Linked DNA regions of Homo sapiens: regions 1, 2, 3 and 4 are each linked to region 5. The links come from fine-mapping of genetic effects on gene expression. A gene starts in region 5. Each other region holds a variant in brackets. All regions are shown on one strand. Distances are between the middles of the regions. Region 1 overlaps IL17RA (interleukin 17 receptor A). Region 2 overlaps IL17RA (interleukin 17 receptor A). Region 3 overlaps HDHD5 (haloacid dehalogenase like hydrolase domain containing 5). Region 4 has its middle 5.0 kb from the start of GAB4. Region 5 holds the start of IL17RA (interleukin 17 receptor A).

What was found.
Region 1: its variant is fine-mapped to the expression of IL17RA in whole blood (TOPMed, PIP above 0.99).
Region 2: its variant is fine-mapped to the expression of IL17RA in whole blood (INTERVAL, PIP above 0.99).
Region 3: its variant is fine-mapped to the expression of IL17RA in lymphoblastoid cells (GENCORD, PIP 0.95).
Region 4: its variant is fine-mapped to the expression of IL17RA in amygdala (GTEx, PIP 0.93).

What each region holds. Positions count from the first base shown.
Region 1 is chr22:17,104,964-17,108,963 of GRCh38, forward strand. IL17RA (interleukin 17 receptor A) reads left to right here. Exons shown (of 13, transcript NM_014339.7): 10 at 628-639; 11 at 890-991; 12 at 2,764-2,805; 13 at 3,344-4,000. Among named protein-coding and RNA genes, the nearest start is that of TMEM121B, 14 kb to the right of the region's middle. RefSeq lists a silencer at 847-1,047 and enhancers at 1,817-2,036, 1,994-3,193. The variant GGGC/G (reference allele first, on the strand shown) is at 1,893.
Region 2 is chr22:17,113,363-17,117,506 of GRCh38, forward strand. IL17RA (interleukin 17 receptor A) reads left to right here. Exons shown (of 13, transcript NM_014339.7): 13 at 1-2,331. It overlaps TMEM121B (transmembrane protein 121B), which reads right to left. Exons shown (of 1, transcript NM_031890.4): 1 at 2,935-4,144. Among named protein-coding and RNA genes, the nearest start is that of TMEM121B, 5.9 kb to the right of the region's middle. The variant A/G (reference allele first, on the strand shown) is at 2,070.
Region 3 is chr22:17,135,005-17,139,130 of GRCh38, forward strand. It overlaps HDHD5 (haloacid dehalogenase like hydrolase domain containing 5), which reads right to left. Exons shown (of 8, transcript NM_033070.3): 7 at 3,546-3,734; 8 at 2,516-3,353. The coding sequence ends at 3,017. Among named protein-coding and RNA genes, the nearest start is that of LINC01664, 15 kb to the left of the region's middle. RefSeq lists enhancers at 2,634-3,341, 3,342-4,048. The variant C/CA (reference allele first, on the strand shown) is at 1,872.
Region 4 is chr22:17,011,183-17,015,326 of GRCh38, forward strand. It overlaps the pseudogene IL9RP6. Among named protein-coding and RNA genes, the nearest start is that of GAB4, 5.0 kb to the left of the region's middle. The variant G/A (reference allele first, on the strand shown) is at 2,475.
Region 5 is chr22:17,083,265-17,087,386 of GRCh38, forward strand. It overlaps IL17RA (interleukin 17 receptor A), which reads left to right and starts at 1,736. Exons shown (of 13, transcript NM_014339.7): 1 at 1,736-1,965. The coding sequence starts at 1,828. RefSeq lists an enhancer at 796-965 and silencers at 1,519-1,738, 1,759-1,878, 2,129-2,228, 2,269-2,518.

The DNA of each region.
Region 1 (4,000 bases), 22 kb after region 5:
CTTTAGAGTGTCACTCCCTGGGGCTGGACTCCTGGCTGTCTTTCATTAGCTATGTAGCCTTAGGCAAATTACTTAATCTTTTTGATTCTCAACTTCCTTGACTGGAAAATGAGGTGGTTTTTATCCTAGAGCCCTAGTTCTGTGCCATGCACTGAGCGCAGTGCTCCAACATGCCGTCCATTTTTTCATCCTCACTCATTGTGAGTCACGGTACTATGCAGTAGAGGATCCCCCCACCCCAAACCCCAGGTTCCTGGATAAGGAAACTGAGGCACAGAGATGTTGAATAACTTGTCCAAGATCACACAGCAGGGACGCTGTTTTCAAAAGTCGCATGCCCTAATGCACGGGAGGCTGCAGCCACGTGCTCACCAGAAGGCAAGGCGCAGGCATGGAGCCAGGCTGGAAGGAGAACCCAGCCTCCCAAGGAGGAGGCAAGGTGTCTCTTCTTAGACCAGCAACTCAAGTGTCTCTTGTAGATGGTTTCATTAAGTTCAACCTGGATCTAGAGTGCCTGGTGCAGGGCCAACATCATTAAAGCCCTCAAGGGACGTCAGTTGTGTTTCTTGTGATGACTGGGAAGGGTTAAGAATGCTATTTTCCCTTTTTCCTCTGTTCTCATTGCAGAACCAATTCCGGGTAAGCTTGGATCTCTCTCCGACAGCACTGCAGCCCTCAGGGGACATTCCCCAGTGGCCACTTGAGAAGTCCCTGCCTCAGCCAGGCAGACAAGGCTGAACCGAGGCCAGCCCGGGGTGGGGGGTGAGACCATGGTTTGTCGTGGTGGGGCCAGAGAGGACAGAGCCTGGGGCTGGGGAGCAGGGCTGGGGGCCTCAGGGTGGGCAGGGCAGGCCCCGCCGCATCACTCACGCTGTTCTGCTCACCGCAGACTACATGCCCCTGTGGGTGTACTGGTTCATCACGGGCATCTCCATCCTGCTGGTGGGCTCCGTCATCCTGCTCATCGTCTGCATGACCTGGAGGCTAGCTGGTAAGCGCTGGGGCTCTGGCTGTCCTGGAGTCAGGCTCTAATACCAGCACCACCACTCACTACCAAGGCAAATCGCTTTATTCTCAGAGCCTCAGCTTCTTGCTTGAGAACCACGTCATAAAGCTGTTGTAAGGACTGAGTGAAATAAGACACATGAATTCTTAGCACAGAACCTGGCATGTGCTATTTGCACAGTATCTGTTAGCCACGATTATATTTGTTGTTATCAAATGTAGTATTATTAAAATCAATAGTTTGGAAGGAGCCGGAGTAAAGTTTCCCTGTGTCAGGAATGATCATCCAGGCAGGTGGAGCAGCCTGAACAACCCCATCCTGCAGCCGCCAGACGTGGACGCCTGGGGTCAGGGAGAATAGTGAGGGTCAGCATCGGGTGATAGAGAAGGCTCCGGCTGCCCTGAGCCACAGGGGTGGACCCCAGCCCCACCTCATTAGCCTTGTAGTCACAGGCCAGTTACTTAATACACCATGGATTCACTTTTCTGTAAAATGTACTGATAATGCCTCCCTCTAAGGGTGTGACGAAGGTTAAATGAGTAGCTGAGGAAGGTGCTTGCTGGTGGGGATTAGTACATACCAGTGTCTTCTCCCACCTGCAGCCCTCTGCTGGCCAAGTCCTAAGCCGGGAGAACACAGGCCTTCCGGTTGGGGCTTCAGCCCTTGCCTGCCCCACCATGACCCTAGGCTGCTCCTTCCGTCATCTGGGAAGCTGTTTCCACCCTTCCCTAGGCTCGTCAGGATTAGGTGTTAATCATTATTAATTATTATGTGGTAGAAAGAAAACCAGCCAGGCATGGGAGGACCTATGGGAGGTTCCAATAACATTCAGTAGCATCTCGGCCAGTGCTCCACAGGCGGTGCAGCTCTCTAAAGGTTTGGGGCT[GGGC/G]GGCGGCGGCGCTTTTGGTTTCCTTTCTGCTGTTGCGCTTCTGTTTTCCGAAGTGTCCTGCACCACAGGGTGAAGGCAAGAGGAGCCTCGCTGTTATTTGGCTGTCTTGTGACAGTTCTGGGGAAGAGCTGAAAGGGTTAGGATTGAGATTAAGGTTCTAAGTCGTTTGCTCAGTCATCTGTGGATCTCAATCCTCCCAGCTGTCACTAAGGAGTTAACCCCCGCAGAGCAGTTTTTTCATCACATCTCTGAGGGGAACAATTGCTTAAGTATGTGGGTTCCCCTTCCTCACCTCAAAAATACCAGGAGGAAATGTTGCAAGCAGCCTGGTGGGGCTGCTTCTGGAAAGAAGTGTGGTAAGATGCATGTCTTCTGTAAAGACACTTCTGGGGAAGAGCTTTTCCTCATGTGGAGTCAGTTTGGGGTGGCCAAATTTCAGGGAGACAGGGCAGACCAGGACCGTAATGAGGAACCAGAATGGACACCACCCCCTGCCCCCCGGCACTGGGGGTCCCAGCTGGATCAGTGCTACAAAATAACTGTGATCCCAATTGATTATGTACAACGTGCCAGGCACGTCACATACACACACTCATTTAATACCCATTAAACAAGAGCAAATACAGACCCACCTCACAGAGGAAGAAGCTGCATTTCAGAGGCACTAGTAACTGCTCCAGGTCATAGTGCTCGTAGTGGCAGACCCAGGACTCATGCCTGTGCGACCACCTAGCACGGCCTCGCTGCTCAGTCTCGGGGCTGCCCCCTTACCCTTCACCCTTTGTCAGGGATGGGGCAGACACCCTGTGAGCTGGTTTCTATTTCTCTTCCCAAAGAACCACTCCAGTGTATTTCTTTTCCTTTCCAGGGCCTGGAAGTGAAAAATACAGTGATGACACCAAATACACCGGTCAGTATTTCCTGGTTTGCATGTTTGCTTATTTTTAAAGCAGTGGAGGGTTCTCCTGGGATAAGTGCGTGGGTCGCCTCCTGTGCTCTAACTCCCAAGTCCCTTCAGGAGACCCCACCTTAGAAACCCCCTTCCAGTACCCCACTCAGAAGGGCCCCCAATAACAAGGCCTGGGTGCCATTTTTTGAATCACTCAGACAAGGAAAGAAAGGTAAGTATTTTGTGAACAGAGGTCCTCCCTGGAGCAGACCAACAGAGCTTGGTGCCTCTTTTTCTTTTCTTAATTAAAGTATAGGCTAAAGACCAGCTAGGAACGTTGAGAGATTCTTTTTCCCACAAGGCAGCAGACTGATTTTTTTCAGGCAGCCAAAGGTGGAATAGTAACATCTGGGTTTTTCCAACAGGCCTCAGTTGGGTTTCTCAGCTTAGGGAGGGAGCCAAGCTCTGTGTCCTGGTCCAGGCCCCTCCTGGGCTGGCAGGCACAGAGCTGCCCTGGGCCCTGGGGTGAGGGTCAGCATGTGTGGTCTTGTTTCCTTAGATGGCCTGCCTGCGGCTGACCTGATCCCCCCACCGCTGAAGCCCAGGAAGGTCTGGATCATCTACTCAGCCGACCACCCCCTCTACGTGGACGTGGTCCTGAAATTCGCCCAGTTCCTGCTCACCGCCTGCGGCACGGAAGTGGCCCTGGACCTGCTGGAAGAGCAGGCCATCTCGGAGGCAGGAGTCATGACCTGGGTGGGCCGTCAGAAGCAGGAGATGGTGGAGAGCAACTCTAAGATCATCGTCCTGTGCTCCCGCGGCACGCGCGCCAAGTGGCAGGCGCTCCTGGGCCGGGGGGCGCCTGTGCGGCTGCGCTGCGACCACGGAAAGCCCGTGGGGGACCTGTTCACTGCAGCCATGAACATGATCCTCCCGGACTTCAAGAGGCCAGCCTGCTTCGGCACCTACGTAGTCTGCTACTTCAGCGAGGTCAGCTGTGACGGCGACGTCCCCGACCTGTTCGGCGCGGCGCCGCGGTACCCGCTCATGGACAGGTTCGAGGAGGTGTACTTCCGCATCCAGGACCTGGAGATGTTCCAGCCGGGCCGCATGCACCGCGTAGGGGAGCTGTCGGGGGACAACTACCTGCGGAGCCCGGGCGGCAGGCAGCTCCGCGCCGCCCTGGACAGGTTCCGGGACTGGCAGGTCCGCTGTC
Region 2 (4,144 bases), 30 kb after region 5:
GTGTGTATATATTTTGTAGAAATGGGGTTTCACCATGTTGTCCAGGCTGGTCACGAACTCCTGGGCTCAAGCCATCTGCCCGCCTCATCCTCCCAAAGTGCTGGGATTATAGGCCTGAGCCCACCGTGCCTGGCCTTTCCTGTTTATCTTTGAAAATTAAATAGGGCATAAGAGAGAAGAAGATGTACTTACAATGCAGTGGGTGGTTTTAACTCTATAGCCTTTGGGCTCTGTGGTTGGTGCTCCCCTTCCTAAATAAATGAGGTGTATGCAGGGCCCTCTTCTGCCTTAGCGCCCTGCCAGCTGGGACTCCAGCAAGGCCCGGGGCACCTGAGGACAGAGTGAGATGGAGGGCCGCTGCTCCAGCAGCCGGGCCTGCATCCCACAAGTCAACTGTGTCGGACAGAGGATCCTTACAAAGAAGAGGCAGCAGGGTTGGGGGCTGGCCAGCTGCTCGTCCGCCCTAGGTAGCTTGCTCATCTGTAAAGTGGGTGGGGCAGGAGTTCCCACCTCATGGGGTCCTGGCAAGCCTGCAGTATCCCCGAGTGGCACCAGCCTGCTTCTGGGGCAGAGCAGTTTGTGCCCCCTGAGGTACCACTGATCCTCTTTCCCTGCTATTAGGTATTGCTCTCTTCCTCCGGTGTTTGCCTTTTCAGATTATAGAAGTAATATGTGTTCCCATATTTGGCGTCTCTCAGGAGCTCAGGAAGTACTTGGCTGAGTGAACATGTCCATTGTGGAAAAATGGCAACAATATGGATTCCATGGGTATATTTTATAGAAGAATATGAAGAAAAGCAGCTACCCCTAAACCCATTGCACAAGCTGTTCATGTTAATTCTGTACCCGACGCTTTCCCCACGGGGCCTCCCCTCACTCTGAAATGGCATCCAGGTCCATCTTGCCCTCCACCTCTGCATGGCTCTCCATGCCCCATCGCCTCTCCCAGATCCTAGCACTGGGTCCACACTCTCGCCCTGTCCATTTAGGTTGATGAAAGCAGGCAGTCACCCGGGTGGGCCAGTCTTGCCTGTGGGAGGAACATGCAGTCTCCTGTCTCATGGTTTGAAGTGTGCCAGGAAGCCTGGCCCAGCCCACCTCCCCCTGGAGTCCTTCCCAGGAGGAATAACCCCTTAGGTCATTGACTATAAGATGAGTTCGCTCACTGGATCCTTCCTCTCTGATGAGACAGGAAGAAGGTACACAGTGACCAGGTAGGAGGAGGAGAGGGAGTAGAAAGGAGGGATGCGGGTGGCTGGTCCCTGCATTTGCCTGCTTCCCTGCACGGGTGTCCCACTGGCCGCCTCTGCTCACCAGTGTCATGGGATTCTCTCAGAAGATGAAAACAGCCCCTGCTTTTTTGCTAGAATGGCTGAGCTTTCATGGAAAGGAAGCTGGACCCAAGCAACAGCCGACTACCGAAGGTTGCCTGGAGCAGTGCAGATGTGGGAGGAAGAAGGGCCTTGGTGCACACTGGCTTTTCTTCCTGACTGCAATGTGGCATTGTGCCAGCTACCTCCTCTTTCTCGGCCTCAGGAAAATGGAGAGAAAGCAGCCCTGAAGGTGGCTGTGACGAGGGAAGGGGCAGAGGGCCTGACAGTCAACCACGCGCTATATTTTCCTGTTCTTCCTTAGGGCAAGAACTGCATGGCCAGACTCAGGCAAGGCCTAGGTGTGGGCTGGGCATTGCCTACACGTGAAGAGATCACTCCGCGTCCCTACTGCACCTGTCACAAAGTGCCTTCTGATATGCCTGGCAAACCAAAATCGGTGAGCGCCAGCTTGCTTCCCTAGAAGACATTTCTAAATATTCATAACATGCTTGCTCAAATCAATCACCTTATTTTACATCCGCTCCAGGGAGAAATGAAGACATGGTCCTACGTTGTTCTGTAATTATTTTCTATGTAAATTTTGTTCCTTGTTACAATTATATATGTCTTAGGGGAAAGGACCATTTCACATGTGTCACCTCATGTGATTCTCACCACAGCCCTGTGATTGCTCCTGTTTTATAAATAATGACATAGTTCCAGTTGATGGCCAAAGCCACAGCTAACGAGAGGCAG[A/G]GAGAGCTCAGGCTCCCAGGAGCTTCCACTCTCAGACCTTGCCTCCCGGGCTGCCCTGAGTGAAACGCCTGCTTAGCATTTGGCACAGCCAGAAGCAGCAAGCTAGGGTCACAACACAGAGAGGGGCTGTGTAATACTGGCTGCCTCTGTGCTAAGAAAAAAAAAAAATCACTGTGTGTTTGTTTATTTTGGTGCAGGCCCAGTGTTCTTGCTTAGACTTAATACTACCCTTCATGTTAAAATAAAACCAAACAAAAACCCATGGCCTTGTTCTTCTTATTCATACGTAAGAATTTGTGCTTCTGGCTGGGGCAAGAGTGATAGAGGAGGGCACAGTATTTAAAAATTAGTTTCTCAAGATGTTCCCCCTTTGGAAAGCTACTCTTTTAGAAAGAAATGGGAAGCCGGGCGTGGTGGCACACTTCTGTAGTCCCAGCTACTTGGGAGGCTGAGGCAGGAGGATTGTTTGAGCCCAGGAGGTTGAGGCTGCAGTGAACTATGATGGCGCCACTGCACTCCAGCCCAGGTGACAGAGTGAGACCCTGTCTCAAAAACAAAGAAAAAGAAAGAAGGAAGGAAAGAAAAGTGAGAGAGAGCCGAGGGTGATGAGAAAAAATCGTTCTCAGGCTGAGTCCATTAGAGCTGAGCTGGCTGTGCCAACAAAGCATGTCAAGACACTCACCAGCTCCAGGCCACAGCTTCACTGCCTCCCTGAAAAACATGCCAACTGCCTAGAAGGGCCAAGGTGTACCCATAATGTTAACACAAACTTATAAAATAATGGCGAATGTCACAGTGACATTTAAGAATTTTGTAAGGAAACCAGGACAGAAAAGATCTTAAAACAAACCACACAGGAAGCTTGTCACAAGTCTCAAGTTTTTTATTTTCAGAACAGAGTCTGGTTTTATTTTTAAAAAGAGAAGGAAAAAAGTGATAAATGCTAGTGAGGTGCCACTTCCCTCCTTCTTCCAGGCTCTAACCGCCAGCTAGCTCTCTTTCACAAAACCCACGGATGCAGAATCAGGACATGTTAAAATGGAACAGTCTTTAGAGAGGGTCTAGTCTTTTTAAAATAAGTAAGGATTTGGGGACTAACAGAGAGGAAGCCCCTGACTTGCTGAATTGTTAGGAGCAGGCGGTTCTCGAGATTCTGAGCCCAGGATCCTTTTCTGTGAACCATGCACGTGCTGGCACTGGCCTCAGGAGACAGTGCCCTGCCTTGGCTGTCAGGTCCACGGAGAAATCTCAGGTTTGCCCCTTCACTAGGGATGCCCTAGAAAGCAAGGGCAAAGGAAGCTTTAGGGGTCATCGTGACTGGGGCAGGGGAAGTGAGTGCAAGGACTCAAGAAAAACACAGCAGAGGAAGGGACTGACCCTCTGAGCACACAGTGGTTGACCCACATGTGTAAAAGAGGGTGACTGGGGCTGAACTGGGGGCCTGATATCTGCCAGAATTGGCCAAGTTGCCATCAGCTTCTTGACATATCCAGGGAAGTGGCAGCTCATTGGAACTTATCACAGCCTCCCACCAAAAACCTAACAAACAGTACAGAGATTTTACAGTCAGGGAGGCCCAGCAGGAGATGGCCATCCAAACAATAGAAGGGGGGCAGATCAGGGGGCCAGCCAGCGGCTGGCCATGGCTCAGACACAATGTCCTTTCACAGTCACTGAGATTAGGTAGCAGAGAAACACAGCAAAGCTGGAGAGAGGACATGGGAACAGCGAGCAGCTGTTGGTACCCACCCAGGGCCCAGGCCCCAGAACCTTGAGTACAATCAAAGGGAGAGGAGAGGAGTCAGTGGGGGCAGGGGAAGAAGGCAGAAAAAAATACCAATTAAGTGTGAAATCCAGCCAGCTATTGGGCCACATAGGGTGAGGGACTGGAAGCACAGATTGTGCATGGAGTGTAAACATTTTCCCCCGCTGTTCCCTGCTCTGAGAGCATGAGGAGGCTCAAGAGAACTCTGGTCAAGCCTTCTGCCCCTCTTATGTCTGTCTACAAGGGTGTCTTCTGCTCCAAGCCCCCAAAACAGTTGTAAGAGGGGGCTTCAAGTGGGAGGCGGGGGCTT
Region 3 (4,126 bases), 52 kb after region 5:
CACTGAGCCAAAACCTCGCCATTGCACTCCAGTCTGGGGCACAGATCGAGACTTCATCTCAAAAAAAAAAAAAAAAAAGGAAAAGGAAGGGATGGCATGTGCCACATGGACACCGTGGCCCGGCAGAGGGGCTGCGAGAGGCCCTAGGCAGGAGTGAACGTGGAGAAGGGTGGCGTGTGTGAATGATGATGGGGAAAGCAGCAGGTGAGGTCCCGGGGGTAGCGGTGGGACAGGATGAAGAGGCATTTGTGCCATGGTAAGAAATCACTGCTTTTGCTCTGACTGAGACGTCACTGGAGGGCTTTCATCAGAGAACAGACCACGTGATCTGCCAATGAGTGAGCAGAGCAAGTGGGAAAGAAAAGGGCGGAGGCAGGGAGGCCATGAAGTGTGGCTGTAACAGCTCAGGTGAGGCCAGGGGCCTAGTTGGGGCGGGGCGTGGTGGGTAGCAGAGCTCACTTGGGAAATTAAGAGGAGCTCAGCAGGACGCCAGGCCCTCGGCCTAGACAAGGAGAGGAAGGAGCTGCTGCAGCCACCTAAGCTGGGGAAGACAGTTAAGCAGGAGGTGTGGACTGCGCTCAGTGTCTGGTCGTGGACACAGCAACACTTACACCGAGGGAATGAGCACAGCTCCTCAGCACTCAGCCACTCAGCCTCCAAGACACCGGCTCTCCTGTTTCATAGCCACTCTCTCAACCTCCTTTGCTCCCTAACCTCTAAACACCTCTGAGGCATCCAAGCAAAGGTGTCAAGAAATCAGCTGAGGGCCGGGCGCGGTAGCTCATGCCTGTAATCCCAGCACTTCAGGAGGTCAGGCAGGCGGATCACCTGAGGCCAGGAGTTTGAGACCAGCCTGGCTAACAGTGAAACCCCATTTCTACTAAAAATACAACAAATTAGCTGGGTGTGGTGGCACGTGCCTGTAATGCCAGCTACTCAGGAGGCTGAGGCAGGAGAATCGCTTGAACCCGGGAGGTGGAGGTTGCAGTGAGCCGAGATCACGCCATTGCACTCCAGCTTGGTAAACAAGAGCAAAACTCCCGTCTCAAAAAAAAAAAAAGAAAGAAAGAAATCAGTTAGGCCGGGAGCAGTGGCTCACGCCTGTAATCCCAGCGCTTTGAGGGGCCAAGGAGGGTGGATCACTTGAGGTCAGGAGTTTGAGACCAGCCTGGCCAACATGGCGAAACCCCGTCTCTACCAAAAATACAAAAATTAGCTAGTCAGGCGTGGTGGCGGGCGCCTGTAATCCCAGCTACTCGGGAGGCTGAGGCACAAAAATTGCTTGAACCTGGAGGTGGAGGCTGCAGTGAGCCGAGATCATGCCACTGCACTCCAGCTTGGTAAACAAGAGCAAAACTCCCGTCTCAAAAAAAAAAAAAAAAGAAATCAGTTAGGCCGGGAGCAGTGGCTCACGCCTGTAATCCCAGCGCTTTGAGGGGCCAAGGAGGGTGGATCACTTGAGGTCAGGAGTTTGAGACCAGCCTGGCCAACGTGGCGAAACCCCGTCTCTACCAAAAATACAAAAATTAGCTAGCCAGGCGTGGTGGCGGGCGCCTGTAATCCCAGCTACTCGGGAGGCTGAGGCACAAAAATTGCTTGAACCTGGAGGTGGAGGCTGCAGTGAGCCGAGATCATGCCACTGCACTCCAGCCTGGGTGACAGAGTGAGACTCCATCTCAAAAAAAAAAAAAAAAAAAAAAAAAGAGTAGTCAGGTGGAGAGAGCCAAGAGGGCTTTAAGAATGAGGGAAGGAGGCCGGGCGTGGAGGCTCACACCTGTAATGCCAGCACTTTGGGACACCAAGGCAGGCAGATCATTTGAGGCCAAGAGTTTTAGACAAGCCCGGCCAACATGGTGAAACCCTGTCTCTAC[C/CA]AAAAAAAAAAAAAACATTAGCCAGGCGTGGTGGCATGTGCCTCTAGTGCCAGGTACTCAGGAGGCTGAGGTGGAATTGCTTGAACCCGGGAGGTTCAAGTGAGCCATGATCGTGCCACTGCACTCCAACCTGGGTGACAGAGCAAGACTCCGTCTCTAAAAAATAAAAAAAGAACAAGGGAGGGAGGCATCAGCTATGTCAAACACAAACAGCTACTGGAGTAAAATGAGGACGAGAACTGACTGGGGGATTTGCAGATGCTGAGGCCATGGGTGACACAGACAAATGAAGAAATGAAGTTGGTTACTCCTAGAGGAAGGGATGCAAGAAGCGGCATGTTTTCTAGAATCACTGCAGGAAGAGCTGCTTCCTTTAGAACAAACCAGTAACAAGATCCCTCTTCTTTTCCACACCAGGGAAGTTGCTAAGTATATGCCAAAGCCAGGCATACTCATTCATAGACAGCCTCAGGCTTCACAGCCCAGAATGGGTGTGGACTTGGGGGCGGGAGGTAGGAAAGGAGATGTGGGCACCTCGTGGAGCTGAAATGCCACCCATCTCCCAGACCCTGGGCCGCCCACACCACTCACTCCTCCTTTCCCCACAGGACTTTTAGTGCACTCCAGACAGAGCTTCACAAGAGTCAGCATCATGAACATTTATTATGATTATTTTATTTAAAAAAAAAGCCCCACATCTCCGGGCAATAAACTACAATACAGTAAAAAGTAGCATCTGGTGTTAAGACACTCTGCCGACAGGCTGCATGCCTTCAGTGCCGGCAAAGGCTCTGCACAGACATCCACAGTATTCCACACTGCCTCCCCCATTTCAGAAGTCCCTACTGAAATGAGAAGGACACTGAGGCACACAGGGGAAGAGAATGGCCTGAGGTTAGACTGCCACGAAAGGCACGTGGGAACTGGGCCCAGAAAATTCCAACCGTTCCATACAAAATGCTACCCAGCAGGGAAAAAGAGTCACTGTCTTCTTCCAAGTGACCAGTAATGCCACACTCATGGGGCAGCAAGAAGGGTGGCAAGGGAACCAAGCCCTGACCTGAGCCCAGTGATCAGGCCAGAGCCCAGCCAATGGGACTCGCCCACAGGTCCAGGCTCACCCCCTCACCTCCACCGCACTGCCCTCACTCCAAAGCCCAGCCCTCCTTGCGGAAGACCAGCTGCACAGCCTCATTCACGTCATTCACCACGTGGGAGGCCTCCATGAGCCCTGGACTGAAGCATAAGTCTCGGTGCCCGTGGAATGGAGGCTCCCCTCCTCCAAGGACAGGCTCCGTGGACTGTGGGTTCCTGGGATTGTAGACGCCTGTACACACCAGGATGGAGATGCAGCTCTGGCTTGCTGAGGGCTGTTGCTGCCGTGTGCCCCCGGCCCCTAGTTCTGGCGCCCCATCATGCGTTGCCTTCTGCAGGTACTGGTGGAACAGGTTGGCGCCGTATACGTCAGACATAGGGTTATCACTGGCAGGGGCAGCCACACCGGAAAAGGAAAAAGGAGAAAAAACCCTAAATCAATGTTGCAAAGCAAAGGGAGCAGAGAAGAGTTTCGGGGCAGAAGAGTGAATTAGATATAGGGAAATGGGGGTGAGAGTAGAGGAGGAGGGAGAGAAGGGGATGTCATAAAAGGGACAAAGGAGGGAGAGCAGAGCCTACCCCACAGCATAGAGCTTCCGGATGGGGGCGGCCCAGCCCCGCCTCTCCGCCTGTCGCCTGATCAGGTCCTCGGCATACTGGTAAGTGAGGATGCTGGGTTTGCCCATCAGGCCCTCGTATCTCAGCTCCTTGCCCGTCACTTTCTGGTAAATGGTTTCCAGGCACAGCAGAAAGGTGCCATGTCCAAACCTGCCAGAAACGAGCACGCAGCAGTTCAGTCTTCCTGATCTCCAGGCTCTTCTAGAGAACACGACTGCCACTGTCTAAGCAGCAAACACACAGACCAGCCTTTTCCCCAGGGTAAGAGCTGACATGTAGCAGACACTGTGCAGGCACTGGAGGCAGCATTTCACATTTCCCTCTCAGAAAAACTCTATGAGATGACGCTATTTGTAAAACGAGGAAACCAAGGCACAGCAAGATTAAGTAACTTGTTCAAGAGGGCAGAGCTAGGATTACAACTCAGTCTGACTCCAGAGCTTAAATCCTGCTGTAGAGCTGAGGCAGACTACGGTTGCGCTTCTCCCCTTCTTTGCTGGTGTCCATTTTCAGCTGACCATATTGCCACTAGGTGTGAAAAA
Region 4 (4,144 bases), 72 kb before region 5:
AGTGTACGGCCCATCACTAAGCAGTGTTATTGCTATGAACCAACTAAAATTCCTGAGGAATTGTATCTGCCCCTTCCCTGCCCACCTTGTTTTGCCTTTAAAAATCAGCTCATAACTGCTGCTAATTGCAGTGTATATTCAGGATAACTTGAATCTATGCTCCAGAGTTGCAATCCTGAAGTTTGTCTCAAATAAACTCTCTACTAAGATTAACTTTGTCTCAGCTTCTTCCTTGTAGGGTGACACCAGGATCTCCTTTCCTGGTGCTGCAGGGCTTCCCTGGACCCTGTGCAGCAGAGATATCCCCTCCACACAGTATTGCCAGCATATTATGTAGAAAAATCATTTTCCCTTTCAACAGGAAGCCCAGTTCTTAGGATTGTTGTTCAAAAATATAATTTAAAGCTTAAAACTGAGCACTTGGGTCTTGGCAGATTTCCCATCTTTCCTCACAGTGGCAAATGTGACTGTCAAGAGCCTGGGCAGCTGAGGACAAGTCTGAGCGGGGCAGAGGTTGTGATCGTACCCTGGCCTGTGTCATCCCCTTGCAGACACCAGCCCTTCTCTATAGAACCAGGGCATCTGCCAGGGATTATTTAGGCCTTGGGTGAGGGTCTGGCAGGGAGCAGTGCAGTGATGGAGGGTGTGGTGTGTGTGTGGCGTGTTGGATGGATACTTCTGGTCCCACCTAGGGAAGAGCTTCCTTTTGGAAGCAGAGGTCTCCTGTGTCCCCACAGAAGGATTCAGGTCTGCTGGCCTTTCCCAAGCACCTTGAAAGTCACCAGTCTTCGTGTCACCTGTCCGTCATGCTATGTGTGTGTGAGAGAGAGAGACAGAGAAAATTGTTCAGGTGGGGGTACCCAGTCTCTGTAGCTGCTGAAAGGCCCTGGGACACATGCTGCATGCTGCCAAGTGTTTGTTTTTTCCTCAGCACATGTCACCATCTGTACCCTGGTGCAGGCTGCTGTGAGCACCAGGCTCTGTGCTAGGGGAGCAGTGAGGGGACTTGAAGAGACTCAGGGTCCCATGTTGAGGCTGAGCTGGCACATAGTAAGGAAGACAGAATGCTCCTGGCACAGGTGCTGCTTGGCCTCTGGGTGTGGACATCAGGAGGGCTTCTTGGAGGAGGAGGGAGGGCTTGCTGAGGAGGAGGCTGCCACTCCCAGGGTGAGTTCTGATCATGCTGCCTGATCCCTTTCCTCATCCCATACTCTGCTTCTAACCTGGATGGGGGCCCACAGGGCCAGCGTGCAGCTGAGCCAGGACTGTGCCAGCACCTCGCAAGGAGCCTTGGAATTCAGTGTGCGAGAGGCCACTGCAGTACTCACCTGTGACTCAGCATGTCCCTGGAAATCTGTCAGCCTGGAGGAGAGCAGGAGGGCATGGGGACACCTCCTAGGGGCCCCAAGTTTGGAGGATATGCTGCCAGCAGAGTGTGAGGAGTGAGAGGCACCGCTGCCTGCCTACCTGCCACTGGAGGACCAGGCCCCTACATCCCCGACAAGCCTGCTCACCGAGACTGAGTGGGGTAGCAGTGGCTACTATGCCTTGGGCTGCTCTGGAGGGATGCAACCCTTCAGCCCTCTCAGGAAGCACATGGAGCCCTGAACCCATCCCAGCCCTGCCCCATGGCCTGTCACATGACCACTGGGGCTTGGAGACCTAGCGAGGAGGTACCTGGGCGGTGAATGGTCCAAGCTAGAGGCATGGGCTGCACAGGGACATCCAGGGCCCACAATCCCCTCCTGTCTTCACCATGGCTCAGTCCTGAAATTTCTAGGGCCCAGACACAGCCACCTGCATCGTGTCCATCTTAGGGAAGATGGACAAAAGTCTCTGGAGCTGGCCCTTGGCTGGGACAGGACCTCCTGAGAAGGGGCCTCTAGCAGTGGTCAGAAGTCCTGCCTGGATGGAGGCTGGAAGCTCCTCCTTGCCCGACCTGCTCAGCACCTGTGGGGAGGGGCCTCTGCCCTCAGCATCCTGCCCACAGCACCACATTCTCCTGTCCCCTTTCTGGCTTTATCTATAGCCACTCTGAGAAAAGAGGTGTAGTCTCCCAGCCTGTTCTGCTCTTACCCCTTAAAGGGCCAGCATGGGGCCAGTGGACACAGGTGAGACACCATAACCTGGAAGTGGTGACCTCTCCATGCCTTCCTGAGGCACCTTTCGTAGATATTAAAAGGTGCATAATGGCTTTTCCAAAGTGCTGATGCCTGGGAGGAGAGACCAAGGGAGGGGTGGAGTTTGGCCAGGCCTGGTGGGCTTTCTAGGCTCCAAGAACAGCAGGGTGCAGACTCAAACCAGCTCCAAGATAGTAGGGTGGAACATCAATGACAGCTCTGGGGACAGCGGAGTGGAGGCGCAAGGACAACTGCAGACAGTGGGTTGGAGGCTCACATGATCCAGCACTTCCCTTCTGGGTGTCTACACAAAGAAATTCAAAGCAGAGTCAAAGAAGTATTTGTACATCTATG[G/A]TCATAGCAGAATTATTCACTAATAGCTTAAATGTGGAGACAACTCTAATGTCCATGACAGATGAATGGATATGTGGTCTATACACATAATGGAATATTCTTCATTTCTCAAAAGGAAGGTAATTCTGACAAATAATATTAAAATAACCCTGAAGATATTAGAGTAAGTGAAATAAGTCAGAAAAGACAAATACCATAGATTCTGCTGTTATAAGGTCCCAAGAATAGTCAAATGCATACAGACAGAAAGTAGAATGGTGCTTGCCTGGGGCTGGGTGGAAGGGAGAACAGAGAGCTATTGTTTAATGACAGAGGGTTTCAGTTTTACAAGTTGAAAAGAATTCTGGAGATGGATGGTGGTAATGGTTGCACAACCATATGAATGTTAATATTACTGAACTGTTCACTTAAGCAAGGTTAAACTACTATAGTTTATGTTATGTGTATTTTAACACAATTTTAAAAATTGGAAAATAAAACACCTAGAGCCATGATCTCTAAGGCCGTATGTGTTCTGCCCCTATTACTCCTCACTCACTCCATTCCAGCTCCACTGGCCTTTTTCTGGCTCCTCAGACATGCCAAGCACTCCCTGCCTCGGGGCCTTTGCAGTGTCTGTTGCCCTCACGTGGAATGCTCTTCCCACAGATCTCTCTATGACTCTCTCTCTCTCACTTGCTCTGCTCTAATGTCTCTTTTTCAGTGAGGCCTTTCCTGATCACCCTACAGAAAAGCACCCAGCAATATTCTCTATTCCTTTTCCTTGCCTTGTCTTGGTAGCACTTGCTCCTTGCTGACATATAGAAAAAATATGTGTTTATGCAATGGTGAATATGATGACCACAGATTTTTCCCCAGCCCTGTTCTAGGCAGAGACTGGGAAATGGGTCATTCCTGTCCCCTATTCCAATTCTCTCCTTCTATAATGGCTTATTTTTCCTTTTTAATGTTCTAACCTAATGTTGAGCAATTTCAGTTGATTTTTTCATAAGCTGGAAGGTCCATGAAATCTGTTTCTATGGCCATTATTTTCTCAAACACTGCAGTGTCTTTTTTCAGTGTTTTCCATATATAATGATATTCCTAGGAATATCTCCTTGGCCTTCCTATCTAAATTCACCCAATGTGGTGTTCTTCATATTTCAAGTGAATTCAATACTGCCTTCATAATTGTTGGCCCCTTTAAACTTTTATTGTCCCTGATAGGTAGGTGCTCATCTTATTGGTTAAATGATTTCGGCAATTTCCCTTTTTAATTATTTTTATTTTTATTTTGAGACAGGGTCTCAGTCTGTTGCCCAGGCTGGAGTGCAGTGACATGATCTCAGCTCACTGCAGCCTCGACATCCCAGGCTCAAGCAATCTTCCCACCTCAGCCTCCCAAGTAGTTGGGATTACAGACATGTGCCACAGCACTCCACTAATTTTTTTCTATTTTTTTCTATTTTTGTAGAGACAGGATCTTGTTATGTTTCCCAGACTGGTCTGTAACTCATACACTCAAGTAATCAGCCCATCTGGGTCTCCCAATGTGCTGGGATTACAGGCCCAGCCTAAAATGTCTTTTTGATAGAGTGATTTTGAAGATTAAGCAGGCTAGTGGGTCAAGCACGTAGTACAACATTTGAAGCCCAAAGGCAGGGAGTGTGAGCCCCAGGTGGTGGTGGCGG
Region 5 (4,122 bases):
TGCACTGGGCAGAGGCCTTTCTCATTCTCTGCCACTTGGGCCCCAGCATGGCTTCCCTAAGAGCTAGGAGCTCAGAGGGAGGGGCTGGGCAAGACAGAAGTCAGGATCTTTTTGTAACTTAATCTTGTAAGTGACATCCCATCATTTTTGTCTTCTTCTATTCATATTCTATTGTTAGAACCAAGCCTCTGGGTCCATCCCACACTCCGCGAGGAGGATTCAGAAGGTCGTGACTCCCAGGGGGTGGGATCCTAGAACACATCTTAGAAGCTGCCTACGACAACCGCTGATTTTTAAGTAACAGTTACATCCTCTACATCTATTTAGACTTAGGATGGAGAATTTTAGATGTCATCTTTAAAATGCATGAGAGGATGCAGTTTTCCAAAATTCTTTTAGAAACAGACAATTTGAAGGCCACTGAGCTTCAGGCTTCATTCAGCTGGGTCGTGTCTGCGGGCGGGGCTCATAGAGATGTCGCTGGGGGTCAGCGGGTGCTTCGGGCAGCGAAAAAACCCACCTCTCGAGGGCAGTGGAAAATACAGGGAAAAGCCACTTGAGTGTAGACTCCGTGCGTGTCAAGGCCAGGCAGAGGCGCACTTGATAGGCAAGGAAAAGCGGACGGTGGTGGTCTTGGGAGGAAGAGAGGAGAGGCGAATGGGCAGGAGCGTGTGGATGCACTAGGGCAGGACGGGCTCGAAGCAGGAACCTAGGATAGAGGCAGCGCGGGCCGGCTTGGGAGGGTCCTCCAGGGTCCGGAGAGGAGAGGACGCAGGCTGCACGCGTGCTAAGAAGGAGACTCATGAAATGTGTAATTCGCTGGCGACAGCTTCCGCGGCCGTGGAGTGAGCCTCTGGGAAGTAACGACTCTCTTAGGTGCGGCTGGGACACAGTCTCACAGACCAGGTAAGTTGCCTGCCCTCCAGGAACTCAAGTGTCCCCGAGTCCGAGCCAGGAGGCTGGAAGTGACTGCTGTCCCATCCTCCCTGGAGCCCGGAGCTGTCCTTGTCTTGAGAAAGAGAAAGCAAAGCCAAGGAAAGCAGAGCGAGCAGAACCAGGCAAAGGGGTGGGGACAATAAAATGGGATATGGCCCGCGCTTCCATCTACTCAGGAGGCAGAGGCAGGAGGATCGCTTGAGCCCGGGAGGCCGAAGCTGCAGTGAGCTGCGGTTGCACCACTGCACTCCAGCCTGGGAGACAGAGGGAGACCCTGTCTAAAAATAAAGTAAAATAAAAAACAAAAATAAAAGGGACAGAGACTAAGAAAACGGACTTCCTGAAATCCCAAGTTGGGATTTCACGTCCAGTGACCCACAAGAGAAGCAAGAAGTCTGAACAGGGCCAAGAATCAAGTGAGTGGGGGCGGAGGATTAAAATCGACAGTTGCTGCGGCACGGCCAGGGTGGAGGGTGCATGTGGGGCAGGCGAGGCTCCAGCTGGAGTTGACGCTAGCCCGACGCGGGTGCAACTGGAGGCGCGACGGGCCAGGCCCAGGAGCAGCGGGAGGAGCGCACCTGGGGCGCGCGGGCGGAGGAGGGCCGGGGAGGGACGCCGGAAGGACTGGGTAGGGACGCCCGGAGGACTGAGCGTAGGGCCGAGAGGAGGGGCGCAAGGAGGAACGGGGGGAGGGCCCTGTCTCACCCTAAACCCCTCCCCGTCCCAGACTAAACTCCTCCCCTCGGCCCGGCCCGCCCCTGGGCCCGGGCTGGAAGCCGGAAGCGAGCAAAGTGGAGCCGACTCGAACTCCACCGCGGAAAAGAAAGCCTCAGAACGTTCGTTCGCTGCGTCCCCAGCCGGGGCCGAGCCCTCCGCGACGCCAGCCGGGCCATGGGGGCCGCACGCAGCCCGCCGTCCGCTGTCCCGGGGCCCCTGCTGGGGCTGCTCCTGCTGCTCCTGGGCGTGCTGGCCCCGGGTGGCGCCTCCCTGCGACTCCTGGACCACCGGGCGCTGGTCTGCTCCCAGCCGGTGAGACTCGACGTGGGGAGCGGTAGCCGCCAGGATGCTGCGGACGCGGGGCAAGGTCGCGGAGGGCCGGACGGTCGGGACTACGCGCCCGGGCTGGGGAGGCAGGAAGTCCGCGCCGCGGGCTTAGAGGGGCTCAGAGCCTTGGGCACAGATATCGCGGCGCCTGGGGAGGACCCTCGGAGCGGTGGGAGTTGCGGTGTGGAATACGGGGGGGGTGGGTGGCACATCGCGCGGCGCGTGTTGCACAACCTGGCCCGCCGTCGTGACTGGAGGCGGGAGTGACACCTCCGCCCGGGCCGCGGAGTTCGGGGAAGGAGGGCGCGGCGCTGGGCCAGGCCGGAGGGGCGGCCAGGGCTGATAGAAAGGGGCTGTGGAGAAGGGGCCCGGGGAGGAGCCAGGACGGGTCTGGACCCAGCTCCACGCCTTGCGCCCCTCACGTACCCCGGCGGGGCACGGTCGGCCCTCGGGAGGCCCATCGCGCCCTCGGGAGCTTCCCTCAAGCCGTGCCCTTCATGCCGCCGACGGAGCCGGGCGAGCCCACGTCGTCCGTGCGGAAGGTGGAGTCCCTCACCCGCGGCCCCCAGAGGGACCCCGCTGTCGTAGAGCCACGCGGGGGCCGGAGCGCTGAGACGCGGCACCATGTTTCGGGGAGAGCTCTGCCGAGGGCGGCTGAGGGCCACCTCCCCAGAGGCGCGAAGCCCTGAGGATGGGCAGATGGTTCTTAAGACGGCGCCCTTCCCGCCACTCCCACCCCCGACTACCACCACCTGGGTCTGGGAACCCGGTGAGAGCGCAGTCGGAGGGTCGAACGTTTGTAGCTGTCAAGTCGTAGCCCCGCTGCGCCCACAGGAAGTGACCCACCCGCCTGCCGGGTAGTGGCCTTTCTGTGAGCCAGGACCATCTTAAGGAAAAAAACAAAAAAAGAGCAAAACGCCGTGCCCCTCCACAATATACTCTCCTCTTCCCCGCATCCCCGAGGGGATCTTTCCTCCCCTCCACCTCCACCTCCACCTCCACCGCTGACCCCAAGGAATAATGCTCAGTATCTGAGTCAGAGGATGTAAAACAAAGGGATATTTCTCCTTATGTAGTTTTATGGAGGATTTACCGAAAGAAGGTGGAGGGTGAGTGACTATGTCGCAGAAAAAAAAAAAAAGATGTTTTTATCGTGAATGATGTTGAGAAATGTCCTGTGACTTCCACTATTGGGCAAAGCAGGTCCCTCTGCCCTGCTAGTCCCTCCTGCAGGCTGTGTATGAAGCGTTCTGATATGGAGGGTTGGTGCGCCTGGGTTGACAGCCATTGGTCAGGTGCCTGCAGAGTACAGGGCGCCATACTGGGAACTGGAACTATAAATAAATACTCTGGGGACCCTAATATCCAGAGACCTAACCCATCTACGGGAGGAACAAGGCTTGAAGTTAGGGAACTGTCTAGCAAAGCTGCTTGCACAACTGCTAAGTGTACGGAATTCCAGGAAAAAGAAAAATTGCTTCCAGTTGGGGTGTCCTTCATGGAAAAGGCATTTGGGCAGCCCTGTGGGGGTAGCAGGAGCATTCCAGGTGGTGGAAAGGGCCTGAGCCAAGGTCCTTAAGTGGGACAGGGTACGGTGTGTGGCCGGAATGGAGGGTCTGTGTAATAGGACAGTGAGAAAAGATGCCAGAAGCGGGGATGGGACTCTGCTGTGCGTGGCGTGGGAGCCAAGCTCTGACTTTCACTGCACAGTGAAGCAACTGTAAGTCAGGAGCAGAAGCACGGCCTGGCTCCAGGGAGGGCTGAAGAGAGACACTTGCTGTTCATATTTGTCTGCAGTCTCTCGTTCTCTTCCTTCCTCTCTCTCTCTTCTGTATACACCTGCCTCACAGACAGCTCTTCTCCAGAGATAGACAGCTCTGGGCTCCATTGACTAGTTCTTTTAAAAAGAAAGAAAACACATCCTTCAAATTTCTGTCCCTCACTGGTGTTTTAGTGGATGCAATGTGGTATAGTGAGGGGAGGGAAGGCCACAGAGGTGGCCAGAGGACCTGGATTTGCAGGCAGCATCGCACTTACTGTCTCTGCAGTCGGGCTTTGAGGCTGCCTGGGCCTGGGTTCCCTCATTTCCACAAAGGCAGGACTGGGTGAGCCTTCTCAAAGTAAGTCCATGCCACCTTCCAG